7 linked regions of the Homo sapiens genome follow. The gene in region 2 interacts genetically with the main gene of each other region. Each region holds a gene or a part of one and is shown on either strand. Other genes may lie near its edges. The genes, in order: ASCC3, XPO1, POLR2B, SPDL1, CACTIN, ADPRM and PSMD1.

Region 1 (3,500 bases), on a different chromosome or scaffold from region 2:
TTCTTTGCATGTAGTATTATAATACCTATGATATTTCAGTACAGTTACTTGTTGACATGTCTCCTCCTGCTAGACAATTAATTCTGAGAACAAGTTTGCTATCTTATTCATCCTTTTATGTTCAGTAAATAGCACTGTACCTAGCAATACAATAAGCATACAATAAATATATGACAAATGAAGCTATTATGAAAAAAATCTAGCACAAATACTCCCCTTCCAACAATCAGATTCAGTTACATACTTTAAAATTGTGGTGAAAGACTAAGAAATACAAACTTACTATAGATATTCAGAAGTGAAAGTAATGGTTTTATGGCTTACTAAGAAAATAAAATATCCATTAATTAGATATTTATAAATTTCAGTTTATTATAATCATAATTGGATAACTACTATGTATTCAATTATGATGAGCAAATATTAGTAAAATTTTCTTCGTAAATCACAATTTTTAAAACAATATTATGTTCAGAATGTTAGAGAAAATTTAATAGTGAGAACAGATCTGATAAAAATTAAACCAAGTGTAAAACATTCACAGTAAAAAGACTGATCACAGAATTAATGATATAATATCTTACTTCCAAACTAATGTTAGTTGGCATAACACCTATGGGTTAAGTCCTCCAATACCTACTTAGCTAATTCTCTAAATTAATTTTTCTCTGAAAAATACAGCTAGTATTTTTTCTGTATTTCCAATACTCAATGTGATTTAAAAATTCTTAATTCCAATAATAACGACAAAAATAATCACAGCTACCACATAATGATTATTTAACATGTTACTTACCATTTTGCATATATCACATTCAATCCTTATAACAATTATCTATCTTGATATTGGTGTCTCCTTGAGATAGCCCAACAAGAAAACTGAGCTTCTGAGAGATTAAGTTACCTAAAGTGTCACAACCAGTAAGTGGAAAGGGAAGAACAAACTGATTTCAAAGCCTGTCCTTTCTACAACAGTAGGCCATCCCTCTTAATCTTTCATGAAATATATTACTCATTCAATTTGTCCAGTATTAAAATTAAGTTGACATCAAACCAGCACTGTCCCAGTAACCAGAGCATGTGGACACCCAACTATTGTCTGCTTACTCCTCTGCTACACTCATTACACTTTCAGACCTCCTGTAACTATCCATTAGGAACGTATATACAGGCCTGCTATGTGAAACCATTTGGCTATAGATTCAACTACTATACAGAACATTAAAGAACTTTCTTTGCTAACCACCCATGTTTAAAAAACACTATTTCATTAGGATAGTTCACATTAATATAAAAAAATAAATCATTTCAACTATACCTCATCCTGAAGTTCATCACCACTTTTAATAGAAGCAAGCATATCATATAAAGTACAGCAAAGATCTTCTACTCTTGGCACTTCAGTCATTTCCTTCAAAGTTGAATTTAGGTACTTTTCAACTTCACACCACAAAAAGGAGCCATTTGTTTTTTCCACAGGCTTGAGTTCTGGGGTGCAAGCCTCCTGGAGATGTTCATTCAGAAACTTCTTATAATCTAGGCTTATAGTTTTCTGAGTTTCACCATTTATTGGCAGTTCGTCAAAGTGGTCCAAATCATGCATGTCAAATGAAAATGCTAAATTTTTACCAAAAAAAACCCTATCGCCATGTTCTTTTTCTGTCATCTGCACAAGAGCAGTAAGATCATCTTGACTAAAATGAGAAATAATTCGATTAGTAGCATTACAAGCTGCAGTGGCAGATGATGAAGGAAAGGGGCCAAACATCTGTTTGATAGCCTTTGTTTCCTTGTGACCAACAGAGTCCTTCAAGTGAAATGTCATGAAGAGAAATGCAGCCCCACTTTCAATTGCTTCTCTCCCATTATCAGTTCCAACTATTCAAAGACAAAAGAAACAGTATTAGCTCAATTGAATCATGGTTCAAGTTACGATCTTCCAAAAAATTACCACAAATATTCTCCTGAGTAAATCTAACAGTCAAATCATAGCAATAGACCAGGTGTAATGGCTCCATATAATCCCCACACTCTGGAAGGTCAAGGCAGGAAGATCACTTGAGTCTAGGAGTTCAAGACCAGCCTGGGCAATATGGTGAGAACCATCTCTACAAAAATTTTTAAAAATTAGCCAGGTATGGTGGTGTGCACCTGTAGTCCCAGCTACTCAGGAGGCTGAGGTGGAAGGATTGCTTGAGCCTGGAAGGTTGGGGCTGCAGCGAGCCATGATTGTGTCACTGTACTCAGCCTGGGCAACAGTGTGAGACCTTGTAAAAAAAACAACAAAAACATAACAATAAAGACAGATAGCCAATTTAAGGAGCAGGAACCAACCCATTCCTGAAGAACTATTTATTTCCCAAAGAACTATTTTAGGTAAATAAATCATTATCAGTAATTATTATGTATCTAAGTGCAGAAACTACCTAGTAACAATCCTTACAGCTTCTTTCTAAAAACAACTTGAGACACTAGCTAAAACTCACTTTAAAACTAATTTTAAAGATTGATTTGATGAGCTAGTTAAATAAACCAAAGTAAGGTACAGAAAACAATCTGAATTATAGACTTTTGGAGCTTCAAGGAAACCTCAAATATCTATAATTTTCTTTCCAATTTGTACCATAAACCTGAGATGGCAAGAAATACTTCTATAGTTCTCATTCAAAAACATTTAATACCATCAAGGATATTTATTAAGCTGAAGATAAAGTTAGTCATATTATAAAATAAAAAAGAAAGCTCCTGTTTAAAAGAGGCTAGAAGTAAATATAAGAAGAATCAGCCTCTAATTTATTTAAGGCATTTTCTCATATCCAATTTTCTCAAATAAAAAAAAGAATCTGTATTTCTGACATGGGTTTCAAAGAATATTCTTAGAGAAGAAAAGAAGAATTTAAATCTTCAAAAGGCCCCAAAAGCTATGTGACTTACCTAAATACTGTTAAAGTTAATAATGTAATGAATACTGGTATCTTTCTAAAAAACATGACTCTGCAGTTGCTCCCGCCTGTAATCCCAGCACTTTGGGAGGCCGAGGTGGGTGGATCACCTGAGGTCAGCAGTTCGAGAACAGCCTGGCCAACATGGTGAAATCCCGTCTTTACTAAAAATACAAAAATTAGCTGGGTGTGGTGCCACACACCTGTAATCCCAGCTACTCGAGAGGCTGAGGCAGGAGGACCGCTTGAACCTAGGAGGCGGAGGTTGCAGTGAGCAGAGATAGCATCGCTGTACTCCAGCCTGGGTGACAGAATTGAGACTCTATCAAAAAAAAAAAAAAAAAAAAAAGAAGGAAACATGACTCCAGTATCATTATTCACAAATCTTCCACAGCTTACTATAGCTTGATCCAAGCTCCTACACTGCCAGAAGCTGACCCCAGCATTTTATTTTCCAGTCTTATTGGCTATTATATATTTCCTGCTCCAGCCAAAAAGAATTTCTTCACCAAAAACCACGTTCTACCCCACTCTATGCCTATTTCTATATCATACTGA
Region 2 (3,500 bases):
CTCCTACCTCGGCCTCCCAAAGTGCTGGGATTACAGGCACGAGCTACCACGCCCAGCCTGGCCAGGCTGTTCTCAGACTCCTGGCCTCAAGTGATCTGCCCACCCTGGCTCCCCACAAAGTGCTGGGATTACAGGCATGAGCAACCGCGCAAGGCCTCCTAGAATAATTTCTACATATCTATCAGGCAGATACTAATACACAGACAGACCCATTAGACGGATTGGACCTTTCATTAGGATAATTGAAAAGGGTCCTGCGGTGATTAAGATAAAAGACTTTGTGTTTTGTTTTCTACCCAGTAGGGTGAAGAGGGTGGCACATTTCTTCCTTTAATAAAGGAGGAGAAAATGAAAAGTGATTTATCCTTACTCCTGCCTTTATCCATTACATAATTTCTTTGAAGTTTGTTTTATTTGCCTTTGAGAAATGAAGTGCGATTAACATTTCATGTCTTGTTTTAGATACTGAAACAAGAATGGCCCAAACATTGGCCAACTTTTATCAGTGATATTGTTGGAGCAAGTAGGACCAGCGAAAGTCTCTGTCAAAATAATATGGTGATTCTTAAACTCTTGAGTGAAGAAGTATTTGATTTCTCTAGTGGACAGATAACCCAAGTCAAATCTAAGCATTTAAAAGACAGGCAAGTAATAATTATGTTTTAGAATTTTAAAGTGATTTCTCAAACAATTTCAAGCAGTTTGGATGTAAATTGTAGATATTTTAAGGAACTATGATCAGTAATATGTTAAATTGCTTGTAGTGGTTTTCAACTGCAGATTAAGAAATAGTCCTAGACGGGGCCTAATAATTTACCTCTGAAGGTTGAAAAATGAATTGTTCAAGACACACTTCAGGAATTGTTTTGTATGGTAACTAGTTTAATAGGTTCTAAGCAAATGATTTGTGTCCAAACATACGTATTAGTTATTTTATTTTATTTTGAGACAAGTCTTGCTCTATTGCCTGGGGTGGAGTGCAGCAGCGCAATCTTGGCTCACCACAACCCCCACCTCCTGGATTGAGGTGATTTTCTTGCCTCAGTTTCCCAAATAGCTGTGACTGCAGGTGCATGCCACAGAGCCTGGCCTCAAATCAGTTATTGTCTCTGCTTCTTTTCAGTTCCCCAATTGTTAACAATAGTGTTCTTTTTAAAACAAAACAGAAAACTAGATTTGCCTCTAATAGTAAGCAACTGGTATAAACTATAGTTATACTTCCATTAAGTTTTAAACATTTGTTGTAGTCATTAGGAAATCTTTTTCCCCTTGGGTTGCCCAGGCTGGTCTCAAACAATCCTTCTGCCATGGCCTCCCAAAGTTCTGCGATTACAGGCATGAGCCACTGTACTGGGCTTTAATCATTTTTATTAGTATTATAGATAACTGATACTTATTTCTGTGTCTTCTAAATCTGATATTTTTGTGTGTTTTTTTTTTTAGCATGTGCAATGAATTCTCACAGATATTTCAACTGTGTCAGTTTGTAATGGTAAGTGTTTTTAATTTCATTTTTAAAAACAATAATAGGAAAGCAATTATTTACAAGTGTGTTTTGTTATAGGAAAATTCTCAAAATGCTCCACTTGTACATGCAACCTTGGAAACATTGCTCAGATTTCTGAACTGGATTCCCCTGGGATATATTTTTGAGACCAAATTAATCAGCACATTGATTTATAAGGTACAGTGAATACATTTCAGTTATTTGTCACCGGATAGCCACATATATTCTTTTCACATGTAAAGCTCTCATCTCTGCATTCTAAACCTTATTCAACCTTGTTTCTAACACGAGGACGCTGCTCAGGAGAAATTTCCCATATTCACACCTAGTAAATTATTTAAAGTGAGTTTCAAATCTGATTCTGCCACTTAGACCATGTAATTTTATGAATTCATTTTGAACAATGGATTTGATTATATTGCTTTTAGTTTGAGTAAGTTACAGTGAGGTAAGTCAAGTGCTATTTCTGAAAAATGAAAAGTTCATCTTTTAACTGATAATTTAAAATTGATACCATGTTATGGCTTAAGTTCTATAATGGTTTAGCCTGGGCAAGTTGGTGAAACCGGTCTCTACTAAAAATACAAAACAGCCAGGCGTGGTGGTGTATGCCTGTAGTCCCAGCTACTCGGGAGGCTGTGGCAGGAGAATCTCAAACTCAGGAGGCAGAAGGTGCAGTGAGCCAAGATCGTGCCACTGCACTCCAGCCTGGGCAACAGAGCGAGACCCTGTCTCAAAATAAGTAAAGTTCTACAGTGGTTTATCCAGAGATAATCACTGTTACCAGTTGGTTGTATTATATTTTCAGATGTTTTCTTGACTGATATAATGAATAAATTAAGTATCTAATTGGAACATTATAACTTGACCTCTTCAACTTCGTAGTTTAGTTTGGTAAGATAATATGGATTTATAGTATTTGAATGATCAGTTTATTGCTTAATTATGTAAAAACCTTTCTATTGTCAACAGTCCTACAGAGAACATTCTCAGACATAAGATATTATGCAATTGTCCAAACATTAATTTATTTAAATATTTTAATGTTTAATCACCAGATTATTAGGTATGTTTAATTTTAAGGTTTTAATGCCCCCTGATTTCCAACCCCAGACGATAACTGTTTATCTTCTCAACAATAGAATATATAAGCCAATTTTCCCATATTCTTATTACTCTTAGATACATTGACCATTTCCCAAAATTCTAAGCAATCACAAGTTTTAGGTCCTGTGTAATTACACAGAAAGTATAACATTCCTAAAAGTCATATCACAGATTCTAGGAAAGTTGTTAAGGAGCCTTGTTATTTTAGGACACATCAAAAGAAAGCAGTTTAGGCCGGGCGCTGTGGCTCACGCCTGTAATCCCAGCACTTTGGGAGGTCGAGGTGAGCGGATCACGAGGTCAGGAGATCGAGACCAGCCTGGCCCAACGTGGCAAAACCCTGTCTCTACTAAAAATACAAAAATTAGCCGGGCGTGGTGGCATGCATGTGTAGTCCCAGCTATTTGAGAGGCTGAGGCAGGAGAATCGCTTGAATCCAAGAGGTGAGGTTGCAGTGAGCCGAGATCAAGCCCCTGCATTTCAGCCTGGGCGAGCGAGACTCTGTCTCAAAAAAACAAAAAAAGTTTGCTCCTAAAGCATTTACTGTATACTAGGTAGGCAATAAAATTCCCTCTCAGTATATCTGCATGATAAAATATGTTCATTCACTTGGCCTGTTTTTGACATCTACCCCTATATTTAATTGTTAAAGCCTTTTTCCTTTTAATTGTGAATTTTAAGTAAAGTGTGTATCAGGCCAATTAATTTTATGGTTCCCTCCCCCCTTTTAAATAGTTCCTGAATGTTCCAATGTTTCGAAATGTCTCTCTGAAGTGCCTCACTGAGATTGCTGGTGTGAGTGTAAGCCAATATGAAGAACAATTTGTAACACTATTTACTCTGACAATGATGCAACTAAAGCAGGTAATATAATACTATCTTGAAA
Region 3 (3,500 bases), on a different chromosome or scaffold from region 2:
TGTGGTAGATTGCTCAAGGATAAAATACTCTATTGTGAACTGTCATAGCATTTATCATTTGTTACAAAATAAATTATTTGATTTTTAAGTTTAAATTGACTGTAGATACTTTGGCTATTGAGAAATGAATTTTGATTTTTTTTTACTTTTTAATATCAAGTGATCTTGTGAATGTGATATTAGTTAATATCACAAGTAACTTCATAAGATGACTTCAGGTAAAATAAACAGAGTAGAGATCATAAATATGAAATATTTATATAGTTTAGGTGTTTAAGCACCATTCTAATGATTTTGGGTAAAGTAGCTATAGTTCAGCTTCCTGGGGTAATGAAACTTATCTATAGTTTAGAAGCTATTCATCTTAAATTGCCTATAAAAAACCATGGCTATGTATATTACAGGCAATGCCATGTTTTTCTTACAATATCAATGGCTAATCCACATGGTTGTGAGAAATTTCTTTCCCATTATGTGACAGTCTCTACTGAAATAAATTGCCCCAACTGTTATTTAGGTCATACCTTACACATGTGTGATTGTCTGCTGTGTTTTCTACCATAGGACCTAACTTCTAATTTTGGTGGCCATACTTGACTGGATCAGGGTGGGGCCAATTTGTTGGCCTGTCACTGATGTGCGAGGTGACCTGATGAAGCCAAAATGGGAGGCTGATGATTAGTTGGACTCTGCATATTGTCTTAGAAAATTGATGTGAAGATGGGGGAGTCAGTAGTTGGGGAGTAGAAGCTAAGAAGGTCTCACAGATATAAGATGACAGAGGTCACAAGATATAGGAGTGGAGACGTGGAGGTGTGGTGGGGCACTTCCTACTGCTGAAGGGTGATGGGATAATCTTGAGGGTTGTGCTACATCCTCCAGCCTCTGTGATGCCCAGCTTTGCAGCTGTCCCTGGATGGTAATAGGGAGTGATCTGTTGAGATCCTCTTGCACGTGTATCTACTTGTCTCTGTATGTCTTTCCCCACCCCTCACCTGAAAAGTATCTGTTCCTTATAAATATGATGTCTGCTTTTTAGATTGCAGCTCTCTCAGCCATGCTGCATTTTTATCACCAGTCTTTTGCTGAGTATTTTTATGTAAAGACTTATTCTTCTTATCCTACCTTTAAGAATTCAAAATAGAACTAATGATCTATAACCTAAAGTTGGCATTCTCATGCATTATTTTAGTCATTAATATCACTACCCTCCGTCCTATTCAAATGAAAGTTCTTATTGTTATCTTTGACTTTTCTTTAGTTTTCTCTCCTGACATATTTGTCAAGAAGTACTTCAAAGAGGTGGAATAAAATTTGTCCATAAAGGGCATAAAGTTTTTTTTTTTCTTTGAGATAGGGTTTCGCTGTCTCCTAGGCTGGAGTGCAATGATGCAATCATGACTCAATGCAGCCTCAAACTCCTGGGCTCAAGTGATCCCCCTACCTCATCCTCTTGAATATGTGGGACTATAGGCACATGCCACCATGCCTGGCTAATTTTTTTCTTATTTGTTGAAATGAGGTCTCATTGCGTTGCCCAGGCTGAACTCAAGCAATCCTCCTGCCTTGGCCTCCCAGGAGCTGGGATCCTTATAGTTCTTATATTGTGCTTTAAGTATTTTACCCCCAAATATAAGCTGCTTTTCCCCAAATAATAAGTTCTACAAAGAAAATATGCCCGGTTTCATCCTTTTTAAGATACCTCATAGTGTCTTGTTTAGTGGTTGACATATAATGGTTGGTATTTTATGACTGTTTCTTGAATAATGAAAATGGGGAAATAATGAAAATGGGGAATTATGCTAGAAATTATCACTGAGTTGCAACTGACTGAACTCAAATATTTTCCCAGTTCCTATTTTGACGAGAAAGGCTTGGTTAGACAACAGCTGGATTCTTTTGATGAGTTTATTCAGATGTCTGTTCAAAGAATTGTGGAAGACGCTCCTCCTATAGACCTACAGGCTGAAGCTCAGCATGCTAGTGGAGAAGTTGAAGAACCGGTAAGATAGTTCTAATAGTTACACAGGTACAAGAAGCGTATTGGTTTGAAATTTTAGCCCTTCTCTTACCTGGCTTAAAGGTTAAAAAAAGTCAGTTGGAGCTTTTAGCAAAGTACTTACAGCACCGTCAATCACTTTCTGATTTATTTTCTCTAATGAAGAGGTGTGTTTTTTTGCAAGTTATCCCATCCTTATTCACATAGTAGGTATTGAATAGCTGGGAAGAGAGGACTCTGAAATATGAACAAATAAGAGAAGTGAGCCAGAGATGGTCACATTGCTTTAGATAGATAACCCCGCTTTTTTCTCTCACAGTGTAAAAATAATAAAAAATGTTTGAAGGAATTTTCATCTGATTTTATATATTGCATGAAGTACATTATTATAACCATATGAGATAAGAAAGGAAAATCACCCAAACATAGCAGCTATCTTTACTAAGTTTCTTGTAGCTTTTGCTCACATATATGCAGGTTTTTTAGCATTGTTAAAATCATACTAAGGGTATAATTTTATAATTTGGTTTTACATGAGTGATTATAAGAAGGATGTAGTCCAAAATAATGACTGTCCCAGTTTTAGAGAAGTTGAGAGGCAGCTGTTGGAACATATTGGACTTTGAGAGACAGGGAAAACTGAGAAACAAAGTGAGGTAGGGAAAGCCCCCAAAATAGAGCTAGACACAGGGAGAGTTCATTGTTTCTAGCCTGATCAGTTTCTCTTCTGTGTAGCTTATCTCCTAAGTGCTGGTCTGTTATTTCCATTTTAGTTGGACATGCTGTACAGAATTTTGCTGTTAAGAATGAAAGTGATTGGCTCTTCTAGGGCTGTGCTGGAAAGGGGGACATTAAGTTTCTTTTTTATTCTTGGGTCATTTTTTTCTTTTTTACAGGGTCTATAGGTGCCCACCACCATGCTTGGCTAATTTTTTTGTATTTTTAGTAGAGATGGTGTTTCACATGTTGGCCAGGCCGATCTCCAACTCCTGACCTCAAGTGATCCACCTGCTTCAGCCTCCCAGAGTGCTGAGATTATAGGCATGAGCCACTGCACCTGGCTTGTTGGGTCATTTTTTCTTCATGGTCTTTGTATAACAAGCCAGATAACAATATAACATAGCAAATTGAACGTGCCAGTAACAGAAGTACTAAAAGAGGAGTAGATCTCTAACACCTAGTTATCAGAGCTTAGTAGAAAAGATGGAAGAGACTTAAATTTACTATGAAGAACTCTCTTAGAAGAGAAAAGGTGCTTAGTCATTTCAGCAAGGAAATATTTGGTGTGGCCGGTGCGATGGCTCATGCCTATAATTTTAGCACTTTGGGAGGCCGAGGCGGGCAGATCACCTGAGCTCAAGAGTTTGAGACCAGCCTGGCCAATATGGTGAAACCCCGTCTCTACTAGTAAAGTACAAAAATTAGCCGGGTGTGGTGCCAGGCACCTGTAGTCCCAGCTACTAGGGAGGCTGAGACAGGAGAATTGCTTGAACGTGGGAGA
Region 4 (3,500 bases), on a different chromosome or scaffold from region 2:
TTCTTACACACACACACACACACACACACACACACACACAAATGCTTACACAAATACCATTCTCAACTAAAATAAACCAATGTTCCTTGAAGAAATGCTAATCCCAGAAGTGGGCCAGGTGAGCTAGGAAACCCTTGTTGTGCCATAGAGTAAGGAAATATTCAAGTAAGAGCACTTCGACTATCAAATCTGGGACAATTTGAGTATCAGAGTAAATAAAGCAAGCAATGGATTATAACTCATAGGATAAAATAAGAATCCATGAGGCTATACTGATATAAATGAATGAGTAAGTGAGGAAAAAGATTTTTCTTTTCTGTCCCTTTACTAAAATTCCAACTAATAAATATAGAAGAAGTGATGGAATTACCCATTTAGCAATCATCACAGAATTATGTTTCAGGCAAGAATCACCAATGGATGTTTAAGTATAAGGAGAAACAGCCATTTACTTAGTCTCAAAGTATCTCCCACAAGATATTTATTAATAATTTAAACTTAAAAAACAAACCAAATTTTAAGATATTCAAATCAAAATTTGGATGTGTGTTTTTTTAACTGTTATACATACCTTAAATTTCTCCAGATTTCTAATTTCACCTAAAAGATGTTTTATTTCACCATTCTTCTGCTCCAACATGGCAAGCAACCGTTCCTGCTGCTCAAATTCAGTTTGAGACCCTTTCATCTGTAGCAACGTGGCAATTTGTAACTAGAAAAATAAAATTACCCCCTCTAATAAAATTAAGTGAGAGAAAGATTCTGATAACTACTTTTTTGATACAATTCATAATTTGTACTATATTACTTTGAACTCATTTTGGAAACTAAATTAGCTATTTCTAATCTAATAATAAATTTTTTTGTAGACATAACATTTGAATACTTATTTTGACTACTTATGAATGATAACTGAAGTCTGTAATGTAATTATTTGTACTTTTGTGAAACATAAAACTGACTTGCATGGCTGTGGTCTGAAAGCACACCACTGAACTGGTAAGTAAGCCTGGCCAAACGCTGCAGACTGCTTATCATAAGCACTCGCTCTTATTAAGGTTCTGATGGGTTTCTCAAAATTTTTAATTAACTTTAATTAAGTGAGGAAAACTAAGCTACTGACAGCCACAAATGTTAGATTCACAAATGACGTTAAAAGCAAAGATAAAAGGCTATCTTAGTATACTGGGGTAATCTTCAATATACCATGTTTTAATTTTTTTAGAGCAGCACTCAACTTACCTCATTATACCTCCCCCACCCCAAATCTGGAGTTGTGAAGCTACCAGAGGGAAATTAAGTAGACTCTAAATCTAGCATTTCTTTCTGCCTTTGGAAATTTCTGGAGTTGAAAAGAGTGCCTATTAGTTTAAATATAGTTTTGAGTAAAACAATCAATGATATGAGGTTGCAGATGACTTTTAACATTTTAAAGGATATCCTTTTTGTTCCTGTTTCAGATTGGAGGCTAGGCCCACTTAGCCTAAGACTCAGAATGCTTCTAGTCTCTAAAGATAGTTTGGGACATATGCAACATTGGTAGATTAAAAGTAACCCCAACAAATACTGTAAGAAAACTAAAGTAAACGTGAGAAAATTTATAAAGAAATACTTCCCAGACAGGGGAGAGTCTCAGGAAATGAGGCAGCACAGTCTGGAAACCCTTAGAAATAAAATTCACAGCTGTTGTTCATTAAACACTCATTTGCCAAGTAGCAGGTTAAGTATTTTACTACACTTTCATTTAACTGTAGGACAATTCTAAGAGGGGGTTCTATCATCTTCACTTAATAGATGAGGTACTGTTGCTTTCAAAGTTAAAATACTTGTCCAAGGTCACAGAGCTAGCAAGTGACAAAACTATGATTCAAACCCAAATCCACCTAACTCCCAAATTTAATCATTAACCTTTCCCATTTCTTTGGCAAAGCCCATGATTCTGAATAAAAGGAAGGAAGCCTTTCCAGATTCCAATTACTACCTCAGTAGAGTGAGGCACAATGGATGAGGGATCAGGATTCTAAGGACTGTTACAATACTGAAATCTTTCTAATTCCCACATGTTTTTCTGCTACCTCTTATTTGGCTAGAATGACAACCAACAAAACCCGTAAAATTAAAAGGGTCTATGTGCTTGACTTGAGGAGCTACAAGGAAAGGGAACCCTGAATAATCCAAATTTCACTCCATAATAAGCCTTGGTGAAAGAGCAGAGGAATGGTGAGGCAGCGAGTTTCAGCTGAAGTAGGAACCCTAGGGCTATGCTTGGAAAGACATCAGGCCAAGAATAAGAAATAAATACTTTTCTTTCTTCTACTCCACAAAGAAAGATTTAAGTCAAAGCTAGTGAGTAACCATTAAAACAAACAATAATCATTGCTAAATATACTATTACTAAATATTTATTCCAAGATTTTTAAACTATAAATGAATCTTTTAATTTCAAAATTGATTTTTTGAAATCATGCAGTTCTAGAAACAACTATATAAGTACACTCCTTGCAGAAAAAGCTAGTTTCTTTGATGTATTCATACATGTAATGCTGACACAAAATTTGTTTAATAAACCTTTGATAGTGAAAGTTCTATACCTTCATTCTCTGCATCTGTTCTCTGTTAAATACATTTTGCTTCTTTAGTGACTGATACTTGACTTTCATACTGATGAGCTGACGTTCCATTGCTGCCCTTCGATCTTCCACCTACAAAATATTAACATGCTTAATTGTTCTGGTAGTAAATGAAAATACCAATTTAGTAGTTAGGATACTTATAAGTACCTCTGCAAACAAAGAGTTGCCTTTACTATTGGGATCCAAGGCTTGCTGGAGTGCCTGGTCCAACTGTACCTGAAGATCTTGATTTGCTACACGAGCTTTCTAAATTCAAAAGAAAACAATTTAGGCAACAGAGATTACATTAGCAAGAAAATAAGTTATGATAAATTGGAAAACATGATGTTACTGTAATCATAGTACCTCTAGGGCATTATAGTAAGAAACTGCTTCTTTCTCTCGCTCCTCTTTTTCCTCTTTAAGCCGGTCTACCTGGCGCATTAGGTTAGTAATAAGAAGTTCTAGCTGTTCTTGTCTGTATTGTAGTTCATTCACTTCTTCTTTGAGGGTGGTCTATTTAACAGGAATTGAAAAGGAGGAAATTCTCTTGAATAATCTTTCATTTGGCAGCTGCTCAGTTTATCTCAGTTGTGGTTCACATCCAAAATTAAAACTAAAGAACCAGTCAAAAGTTGTCAGGTACATTCTAAAATAATAGAAATTACTATTACTGTTAAATTTTTCAACAAGGAAACAAATGGCTTTAGAGACTGCCCTTTTTCCTCTATCAATTTCAGGCTTTAATTTTTAATTAACCTTAGCTTTCAATGAAAAAACCAAGTTCACATGCATTTCAACTTCCACTGAGCCAACGTTTTACACTGGGCTCTTACGATAAAATCTGGGATCAGAGTATATGCCTCTAAATTCTTCCAGACGTTTCAT
Region 5 (3,323 bases), on a different chromosome or scaffold from region 2:
GGGCTGGGAGGTGACCAGTGCCCCAGGGGAGTGCAGGATCTGCCTTGCACCTCTGCCTACTGCAGTGAGGACATTTGGGGAGGCTCATCCTGGGCACTGAAGCACATTGGGCAGCATCCCTGGCCTCCACTCACTCCACGCCAGGAGCAGCCCCAAGGTGGGACCACCACGAATGCCCCCAGGCATGGCCAAGCGCTGCCCCCATGAGAGCCTGGGCCCAGGCCAGCAGCTGTGTCCACCCTTGTACCCTCCCTCCTGTCGTCTGGGAAATGGACTGTCACCCCCACTGTGGGAGGCAAGGCAGAGGGGTGGGGGGCAAAGACAGATCCGGGCACTAACACAGCTCCCAAGGGACCACCGGGCCCCAGTTGGGTGCCGTGTTGTTTCCCAGGCTCTTCCCTTGGGACAAATGCGCTGTGTCACAAATGCCAGCAGCAACTAGGGCAGCGGGTGTGGGGCGTCGGACACGTTACACTCTCTGCATTTCTGCAAACCTAAGATTATTCTAAAATACAACGTTTATTAAAAAAACATGCGATCTTGCCAATAGGCCAATTCCATGAGAACAAAAGATTTTTTTTCCCACCTACAAGTCTTTTTAGAGAAACAAACGGAACTATTTCCAGATGAGGCGGGGTGTCTGGGAGGGGCTGTGGGTGGTCTGGGGCTGGTGACTGGTGAGGTTGGGTGGCCCTCTGGGGGTCCGGGAGGCACTTTCCGTTTTGCTTCTGTTGGAGATGTTCCCGTCGGATGCTGAAGAACAAGCCTGCCGGCTGGGCCACTCCGACCTGGGCTGTGGCACCCGTGTGGCCCTCGGCCCTCCTGGCCTGAGAAAGGGGAGTGAGAAGGAGCCACTGTCCTGATATGGGCAAAACTCGGGGTCACTGGTCTCATGCTCCAAGGCCCCGTGAGCAGGCCAGGTGGGGGGATCCCTGGGGGAAGCCCCTCACCCTTCTCCAACCCCCAGCCTTCGGGGAGCCCCTGCCCTCCAGGCCCTGTGCTCAGAGGTGGGGGGAGGACGGCTCAGTGACTTTTGGTTCCCACGACCTTGACAGAGACAGGGACCTCGACGCATCCTCCATACCCGCTGCGGGGAAATGGACCCCACCAGCCAGCACGGGGTGAGTTGGGGGCCAGTCCCTGCAGAGTGTGGGTGTCCACAGAGGGTCTCTTCTGCAGTGGCGGATCGGGCGCCAGCAGGGTCCCGGCCTCAGTGCTGCCTGTGCGGGCGAGGGTGGCCTGTGGGCAGGGCTGGAGCTGCCCCACAGCCGCGGGCTCTGCCTCACGCCCAGTGGGTGCCCCGTGATGTGGCAGGGCTGGCCTTGAGTTTCCTGCTTCTCACGAGCCTGGCACCGCCAAGCCCAGGCCCCTCTGGCCCATCTCCACAACACCCTGTGTGGCCGCCACTTGGGGCAGGCCCTGTGGGCCCCACCCAGCCTGGCTGAGGGGCGGTGGAGAGTGTCCGCCTGGACGGTGAGGTCAGCTGGCGGCTGCTGGCCACCCTCGTGCTCGAAAGATGCCCCTAGCGCCCCCTCCGTTGCATCAGGACCCTAGGCCAGCCTGTCCCAGTGTCTCCTCAGCTCACCATGGCAGGCTCAATGGTGACCCCCCTTTTATATAGGAGGAAACTGAGGCCTGGCGAAAGAAAGATGCGGCCTGAGGTGGGACGTGAACCCGCGGCCCTGCAGCCCAGACAGCGGCCCCGGAGTGACCACCAGCTTCACCGAAGCCCCTTTACTGTGCCCCCGAGGACACCTGCCTGCCGTTCCCCAGGGCCGTCACCGCCGATAGCGGTAGCGCTTGAAGTGAAACCACAGCTGGAAGATGCCGTTGGCAAACTGGCAGCGGAAGCCGTGGCGGTGCGAGTATTCCCACTCGCGGTTGACGATCTTGAAAGCGATGTCCTCGTAGGGCGGCCCCGCGTGGAAGCGCAGGATGGCGAAATCCTTGTTGTCGGCGCAGGCCTCCAGGAAGTACTCGGGCGTGGAGCGCTTGTCGATGAGGTCGGGGTAGAAGATGTTGAACTTGTATCCCTGCACGATCTTGGGCGGTGGGTTGTCAAAGTCGTAGTGCGTCTGGTTGTACTTGTTCCACTCGAAGCCCGTGTGCACGCGGTTGAAGAAGCGCGGCTTGCGTGGCCGGTACTTGTCGGCCCACAGGTAGGCCTTGCCGGTGAGTGGCATCTCCACGCTGAACTGCGCCTCGTCCTGGCCCATGCCCTCCTTGGCCCGCCGGAAGAAGATGTCCTCGGCGCTCTCGCTGGCGTCTCCTGCGGGCGGGACGGCGTTCACCCGGGCCTCGGCCTCCCCCTGGGTCCTGGCCTCCCTCCTAGCCTCTCTGGCAGGGGCGGCCGCTGGTGCCTCCCGCAAAAGGAAAACAGGCTGGGGCGAGCTAAGGCACATGGGGAGGGGACAGGGCCTGGGCGACCCGGAGACCCACACCATCCGCCCCGAGCCCCGGACCTTGGTCTTCATGTCTATCGTCCTCCTGGGTGGGGACCAAGCGCAGCGCGCTTCCCCGCCGAGCGACAGGAGAACCTGGTGGTTAGGGCCTGGCTGCGGGATCCAGCCCCACGCATGACCCCCGAGGGGGTCCTGGCCCAGGGGTTTTCTGAAGCCAGTATTTTCTCCTCTGTCTTAGGACGGAGGCTGCCCAGGGAGTGCTCGGACAGCGGCCGGTAAAAGCTTCCACCACCTGTGGCCCCAAGGCCAGTGGGCCAGCAAGCCCAGGATGAATGAAGGAACGCCCCAGTGCGCGTGCAGGTGACGGAATGCACGCTCAGAGACCCGGGGGAGAAGCAGCAAGCAGCTCCCCACTGACGCCAGCGGCTTCGGCCGGGAAATGAGGCTGGAGAAGCCCCGCCCCCAGCTCGCCCCACTGGCCCCACCCCCTGGCCTCCAGCCCCGCCCTTACCCGTGACCTGGAGCTGCTGGCGCGAGAGCTGCAGGCGCTGCAGGTCCTCATCCGGTTCCAGCACGTGCGCGTCCAGTGGCAGCTCGTGCGCCGTGAGCAGCCGCGGGCTGTACCTGCCGGCGTCGTAGTCGTCCAGGCTCTGCTGGATCAGGTCCTCCTCCATGAGCACCGCCTCGCCCTCGCCCTCGCCCTCACCGTCCCCGTCGCCGTCGCCCTCTGTCGGGGTCGCGCCGTCCACCTCGGCCTCCGCGGGGCCGCCCTCCGAGGAGGGCCCGGGCGGGGTGGGCGCCGCGTCCTCAGGCTCCAGGCTGGGAGGAGAGAGCGTTGGAGGCGCGGAGGCTGCCCACGGCCCCTCCATCCTGCTCCGCGTCTGCATCGGCGTCCCCGGGGTGCCGGCCGGGCCTACCTGC
Region 6 (2,233 bases), on a different chromosome or scaffold from region 2:
AGAACAAGTATATGTTGGTTTAAGTCGCCAGGTTTGTGGGAATTTGTTACAGCAGCCATAGAAAGCTAACACTCCTTTATATCCCTATAGTGCCCATGTATTCAACAGGCATGCTTATTTCTTATAGTTGTTTAGGCCCTGAATCAAACTTTCTCCACACCTGAATAGTCCCCATTTGCCATCTAATGTTTCTACACATAAGCCTTAGCATATATGAAAACGGTGTTAAACATGTCCCATTAGTGTATAAAGGGAGTCAGTGTAAATTTATTTACCTGCTGTAGCTTCACACAGCAATGGCTGGTGGCCCAAACAGACCAGGCCAGGTGGCACATGGCTGCACTGCCACTTGGTCCTATGAATCCCAAGAGGACTACATGACTTTTCTGGAGGCCCTTCTTACAGGGATGGGAGTGCCACACGCTTACCCGTGAAATAACTATTGGTAATTTTGTTTACAAAATGGGAATACAAGCCTATAAAAATCCAAGTATAGGTGTTCTGAGCAGAAATTGTCCAAAGCTCATTTACACAGCAGGGTGAATAGAAAAAGCTTACCTGAGCTTATATGCTGAACTTGAAGTTACATAGTTAACACATGTGAATACAATCTCCTTGTAAAAAGTTAAAAAAAATCAGGTAGGGCCAAATAAGATCCCTCATGAGGACTATATGCCCCTTATGAGGACTATACACCCCTGCCTCAGTTTCCTCCCTGGTTTGTTTCTAACTTACAATGGATACATGATCCAAAATAACATTTCTGAGTATTTTATCAACCATCACACACTGAAACTATAAATACATTTTGTTATGCAAGCTGAATACTAAACAATGAGACAGAGGATTTTTATTTTTTTGTTTAGGAGGGACAAACACAAAGCTCATTTTCTATCAAGTTAAAATAAATTAGACTAACAATGGAAGGCTCTTTCTTTCTTGTAATTCATAATTCTATCTGGAACTCTGCCTCTCCCTTTCAACATCATTTTGTCAGGATAGACATGAACTGTGCCAAAGGCTTGGCTGTCTGGAGCTGTTTCAATAACTCCTTCTAGGTTGACGTGGTATACACCAAAAGGATCCTCAGAGTAGCCACCATCATGGGTGTGACCAGCAAAGAAACACACCACACACTCATGAGACCAAATGACTGCCAGGGCATCTCTGTAGTTCCAGGCCAGGCACACATTGTCAGAGGCGTCCGGGTAAATGGGAAGATGGCCTGTTAGTTAAAGAAAAGAAGAGTTATGAGCCAATTAAGAAATATCTCTTCTATAAAAATAAATGGCTAAAAGCTAGTACTCAGAAAAAGAAAAAAAAATTGCTATCTCATTATGCAAATGAACTGAGACCAGAGAGAATTCACACACAAGAAAACTAGGCCATCTACAGCCACATCTCTGGAGCATAGAAGAAGGGTAAGACAGTTCACATGAGGCGCGACAGGCTGCTGTAGAGGCAAAACCCTGAATCTCTGAGGCCTACGTCATCTCAAGTTGCCGAAACACCGAGGAAGATCAAGGGTGTCCTATGCAGGGCAGTCTGCAAAGGCAGCCTGAAACTGGGCAGATGCTGTGCTGGAATCCAATCCAATTGATTTCCTTAAATATGAATGTTATATACACAGAATGATGTAACACTAAATAAAAGAACAGGCTGGGTGTGGTGGCTCATGCCTGTAATCCCAACACTTTGGGAGGCCAAGGCAGCCGGATCACCTGAGGTCAGGAGTTCAAGACCAGCCTGGACAACATGGTGAAACCCTGTCTCTACTAAAAATACAAAAATTAGCCAGGCGTGGTGGTATGTGCCTGTAGTTCCAGCTACTCGGGAGGCTGAGGCAGAAGAACTGCTTGAACCCGGGAGGTGGAGGTTGCAGTGAGCCAAGATCACACCACCACACTTCAGCCTGGGTGACAAAGCGAGACTCCATCTCAAAAAATAAAAATGTAAATATAAATAAATAAACAAACAGTTTAGGCATGGGCCATGGATTATGTGTCATTGACATAAACAATGCCTCCGAACTGATTTATGGGACTTTAAACACTCATGAGATCAAGGTAGCCATACCCACTTTTCAGATGAAAAACTGAGTTAAAACAGGGAAGATTTATACTGGCATCCACAGGAGATACGTGGAAGTAGAGTTAGGAGAAGTTCTAATTTCTGACAGCAACACATCTATGATCAAGCCACGGTTCTCACTCTGAAGTACAGCTCACGTTGC
Region 7 (3,500 bases), about 170 Mb from region 2:
ATGAGCGTTAGTGTGTAAGCTTTTGTGTGGGCACAGTTTTCTCTTCTCTTAGGTATGGAATGGAATTGCCGGGTCATATGATAAGACTACATTTAACTTTTTGAGGAACTGCCAAATTCTTTTTTTCCACTGTGGCTGTAACTTTACTTTCCCACTATTACTCTATGAGGGTTCCAATTTCTGCATATTCTTGTCTGTGCGGTCTTTTTGATTACAGCCATCCTGGTGGGTAGAATGTGATATCTTCTTATGGTTTTGTGTTTCTTTTTAAATTAAGAGATGGGATCTTGCTATGTTGCCTAAGCTGGTGTCCAGTGGCTGTTCATAGGCACAATCATATTGCACTACAGCCTCGAGCTACTGGGCTCAAGCAATCCTCCTGCCTTGGCCTCCCATGTAGCTGGGACTGTAAGTGGGAACCACTGCACCTGTTATGGTTTTGATTTGCATTTCCTAATGAGTAATGATGTTGAGCATCTTTTCATGTGCTTATTTGCCCATCTGTACATCTTCTTTGGAGAAATGTCTATTCAAATCATTTGCCTGTTTTAAAATTAGGTTGTCTTTTTATTGTTGAGTTGGAGGAGCTTTTCGTATGTTCTAGATGTAACTGTCTTATCAGATAAATGATTTGAAAATATTTTCTCCTATTCTATAAAGTTTGTATTCCCTGATTTGTGTGTCCACTAAAGTCAATGCTCATTTAACTTAGTAGTCAGCTAACAACTGGACAGGAATTTCCTTAAACACTTTGGAACACAAAGTCTCCCACTCTTTGAAGGAGTGTGTGTGTGTGTGTAGGGCTATACCTTCAACAGGATTCCTCATTTCTTCCTTGCACAGACATAGGCAGTCTTTTAATTCATAGGTGGACCAACTGTTATAGCTATCTCTGACTTAATTTGAGCAAAGGCTTAGCAATCATTTAGTTTTCTACTGTGGTGTACAGTGTGCTCATATGGCCTCATGGCATTGAGCACGTGCCTCACTGTCTTAGTTCATAATTATCAAAAACACTAGTTATTTCACGTGCTTAGAGTATGCTCTAGTTGTGTCCTAATACATCTGTTCTGGATTCCCATGCTACTGGTAAGATAAGTTTACAGACACAGTTAGAATACGTTCTCTGTAAAACCGCCACCGAGATGAACCAGGTTGCAGATCAGACAGTGACTGCATTAAAGGTATCCATTGATGATTCTGTCCATTCATTTAACACTACACAGCAACTACTACAGATCAGGCAGTGCTACAGATTAGCATTTACCATTGTTTTAGGTGCTTTACATGTAACAACCTATTTAATCTCCACAACATCAACAGGAGGTAGGTAGCATTACCATATCAATTTTACAGATGAGGAAACTGAAATACAAAGATTAAATGACTTGTCTTAGTCACACAGCTAACAGTAGAAATAAAAACCCAGTTATGCCAAATTCCAGCTCTAAACCACTACATACACTATCTTGCATCCCTTGGCTTTATCTCTTCTAGCTGATAAATTAGTCAGGTTAAGACCCCGACTCACAATTATAGATAGGAGTTGCCTTTGACCCACCATCAGGTTGATAAGAATAAGTTTACTCTTGTATAAGGATAAGGATCTAGAAATCGAATCTCTGACATTTTAGACAGATCTAGCATCTGGATGTCTTGGATGGGTCTACTGATGGCGCTCTAGTTATCTACAAGAACCTGGAAGATAAAGGCAGTATCACACTCATATTTCTGATAAGCATTTGTTTTTAACATGAAGCACTCTGTCTTGGAATAAATTAAATTCCATGAAGATCCTTTTCTAACTAAAATGCAATGCATTTATGACAATGGTGTAATGAAATAGAAAAAAAAAAAAGACAACGGTGTAATTACCATAGTAATCAATACTTATTGAGCAGTCCCAAGTCTTGTTCTCAGTGCTTGTTCAATCTGTGCCTCATTTCTGAGTCAGGGATGGTAATCTCTGTTTTATAATAAAGAAAACTGAGGCAGAGAGAGATTTAGTACCTGGCCTAAGGTCACTTAGCCTGAGCAGTATACTCAAGATTCAAATCCTGTATGCTTGGCTGTAGAGTCTATATTCCTAATCAAATTGTTGTATTAGGAACTCCTACGTCGTATGTCTGTGGTAGAAGACGGGAGTTTGTAGGGTTACACAGGGAAAAGAAAAATTCTCCCAAATCTATATGAAATGGAAAAGAACATTCTCTCTTTTGTTAAATAATTTCTTAGAACTAGTGAGCTTGCTCCAATGCTTTGGAGATTTATCATTCTCTATCAATATTCTATTGTCCTATGGATTAATATCCCACTGGTATATACAGCTAAGAGTCACTGGTAACTTACTGGTTTGAAAGGCTGGTATCTACAGGTCTCCGGCATGGTTAGGACCTTAAGCTGGGCAGGCATAACTCGGGCTGGGTTATCCAATAACTGGAAGTTTGGCTCAGGTTCTTTTTTCTTCTCTTTTTCCTCCTTTTTCTCTGCCTCATCCTATAAAATAAAATTTAAAAAAAGTTCAACAGAAGTTCATTTCTGTTCCACAGAACTGAGTAACATCTGAAGTTGACTGAGCAGCTATAAGGTACAAGAGGTAGTGGTCGGTAGTAATGGAAGTACAACTAAAGTGCTATCAGACTCAGAGGAGGGAAAAGTAACTCTGCTTAGGAATGAGAATGGTATTTGACTTGGTTTTAAAGGATTAAAAAGGTTTTTCTACCAGCAGAGATCAGAAAAAGGTCTACCTAAACAAGTGATAATCCCTTTGCTTGAAAGGGTTTTTCTTTCTCCTACCTCATCATCTTGTCTGTGAAAAACCTACTTTGCCCTTCAAAACCTATTTTAGTTGTCATTTGCTCCAGGAACTTTTTACTGATTTGTACCCTTCTATTCTTCCCACAAATGGATATATTTTCGAGTCTCTTTCAAGTACAGTTTGATGATTCTACATGCTGGCAACAGGATAATTGTTTGAAGGAAGCCAAGAGCAAGGTAGAATAATATTCAACTAAGGAAGAATCTCGACCATGACAGAGACAGAGATACTTCAATCCATATGACCACCAATTTATACCTACCACTTCCATTTTCTCCTCCTCCTTTTTTTCCTTTTCTTTTTCCTTCTTTTTAGCCTTGGCAGTTATAGATAATACAGCAGTAGAAACCTGGGGAAATGAGCAGGGTAAACTGTTGTAATCCCTTACTGACATACAAACATGCAAGCCCTAGAGAACTCAGTCCTACAACACTATTCTATTTCCTAGCTGTATTACATATATATATATATATATATATATATATATATATATATATATATATATATATATATAAATATATATAAATCAAAGAATAAATGGGAAAACTAAGCAGGACATTTACTGAAATAATTTACTACTCTTGTCATCAAGTGAATCTTTAGTTCTTGGAGGCTTGTGTCCAATATAACTCTTCCCTTTTTTTTGATCTGTAGCCTACCTTGGATATGAATTTGCTCTCAT

The links.
Region 1: changes in XPO1 (region 2) and ASCC3 together harm fitness less than expected from each alone (positive genetic interaction), as found in Homo sapiens cells (one large-scale study listed by BioGRID).
Region 3: changes in XPO1 (region 2) and POLR2B together harm fitness less than expected from each alone (positive genetic interaction), as found in Homo sapiens cells (one large-scale study listed by BioGRID).
Region 4: changes in XPO1 (region 2) and SPDL1 together harm fitness less than expected from each alone (positive genetic interaction), as found in Homo sapiens cells (one large-scale study listed by BioGRID).
Region 5: changes in XPO1 (region 2) and CACTIN together harm fitness less than expected from each alone (positive genetic interaction), as found in Homo sapiens cells (one large-scale study listed by BioGRID).
Region 6: changes in XPO1 (region 2) and ADPRM together harm fitness more than expected from each alone (negative genetic interaction), as found in Homo sapiens cells (one large-scale study listed by BioGRID).
Region 7: changes in XPO1 (region 2) and PSMD1 together harm fitness more than expected from each alone (negative genetic interaction), as found in Homo sapiens cells (one large-scale study listed by BioGRID).

Annotation. Positions count from the first base shown.
Region 1 is NC_000006.12:100,846,830-100,850,329, forward strand, and holds part of ASCC3 (activating signal cointegrator 1 complex subunit 3), read right to left. Parts: intron 1,879-3,500; coding exon 1,319-1,878; intron 1-1,318. UniProt on the Homo sapiens protein: ATPase involved both in DNA repair and rescue of stalled ribosomes. 3'-5' DNA helicase involved in repair of alkylated DNA: promotes DNA unwinding to generate single-stranded substrate needed for ALKBH3, enabling ALKBH3 to process alkylated N3-methylcytosine (3mC) within double-stranded regions.
Region 2 is NC_000002.12:61,496,857-61,500,356, reverse strand, and holds part of XPO1 (exportin-1), read left to right. Parts: intron 1-462; coding exon 463-644; intron 645-1,443; coding exon 1,444-1,492; intron 1,493-1,564; coding exon 1,565-1,684; intron 1,685-3,349; coding exon 3,350-3,478; intron 3,479-3,500. UniProt on the Homo sapiens protein: Mediates the nuclear export of cellular proteins (cargos) bearing a leucine-rich nuclear export signal (NES) and of RNAs.
Region 3 is NC_000004.12:56,988,896-56,992,395, forward strand, and holds part of POLR2B (DNA-directed RNA polymerase II subunit RPB2), read left to right. Parts: intron 1-1,852; coding exon 1,853-2,003; intron 2,004-3,500. UniProt on the Homo sapiens protein: Catalytic core component of RNA polymerase II (Pol II), a DNA-dependent RNA polymerase which synthesizes mRNA precursors and many functional non-coding RNAs using the four ribonucleoside triphosphates as substrates.
Region 4 is NC_000005.10:169,593,773-169,597,272, reverse strand, and holds part of SPDL1 (protein Spindly), read right to left. Parts: intron 3,129-3,500; coding exon 2,979-3,128; intron 2,880-2,978; coding exon 2,781-2,879; intron 2,703-2,780; coding exon 2,592-2,702; intron 713-2,591; coding exon 572-712; intron 1-571. UniProt on the Homo sapiens protein: Required for the localization of dynein and dynactin to the mitotic kintochore.
Region 5 is NC_000019.10:3,610,145-3,613,467, forward strand, and holds the end of CACTIN (splicing factor Cactin), read right to left. Parts: coding exon 3,320-3,323; exon of another isoform or gene 3,222-3,319; coding exon 2,914-3,221; exon of another isoform or gene 2,641-2,913; intron 2,270-2,640; coding exon 1,779-2,269; 3' UTR 501-1,778; downstream 1-500. UniProt on the Homo sapiens protein: Plays a role in pre-mRNA splicing by facilitating excision of a subset of introns. Required for the splicing of CDCA5/Sororin, a regulator of sister chromatid cohesion. Involved in the regulation of innate immune response.
Region 6 is NC_000017.11:10,709,826-10,712,058, reverse strand, and holds the end of ADPRM (manganese-dependent ADP-ribose/CDP-alcohol diphosphatase), read right to left. Parts: intron 1,226-2,233; coding exon 915-1,225; 3' UTR 501-914; downstream 1-500. UniProt on the Homo sapiens protein: Hydrolyzes ADP-ribose, IDP-ribose, CDP-glycerol, CDP-choline and CDP-ethanolamine, but not other non-reducing ADP-sugars or CDP-glucose.
Region 7 is NC_000002.12:231,164,867-231,168,366, reverse strand, and holds part of PSMD1 (26S proteasome non-ATPase regulatory subunit 1), read right to left. Parts: intron 3,168-3,500; coding exon 3,081-3,167; intron 2,497-3,080; coding exon 2,350-2,496; intron 1-2,349. UniProt on the Homo sapiens protein: Component of the 26S proteasome, a multiprotein complex involved in the ATP-dependent degradation of ubiquitinated proteins.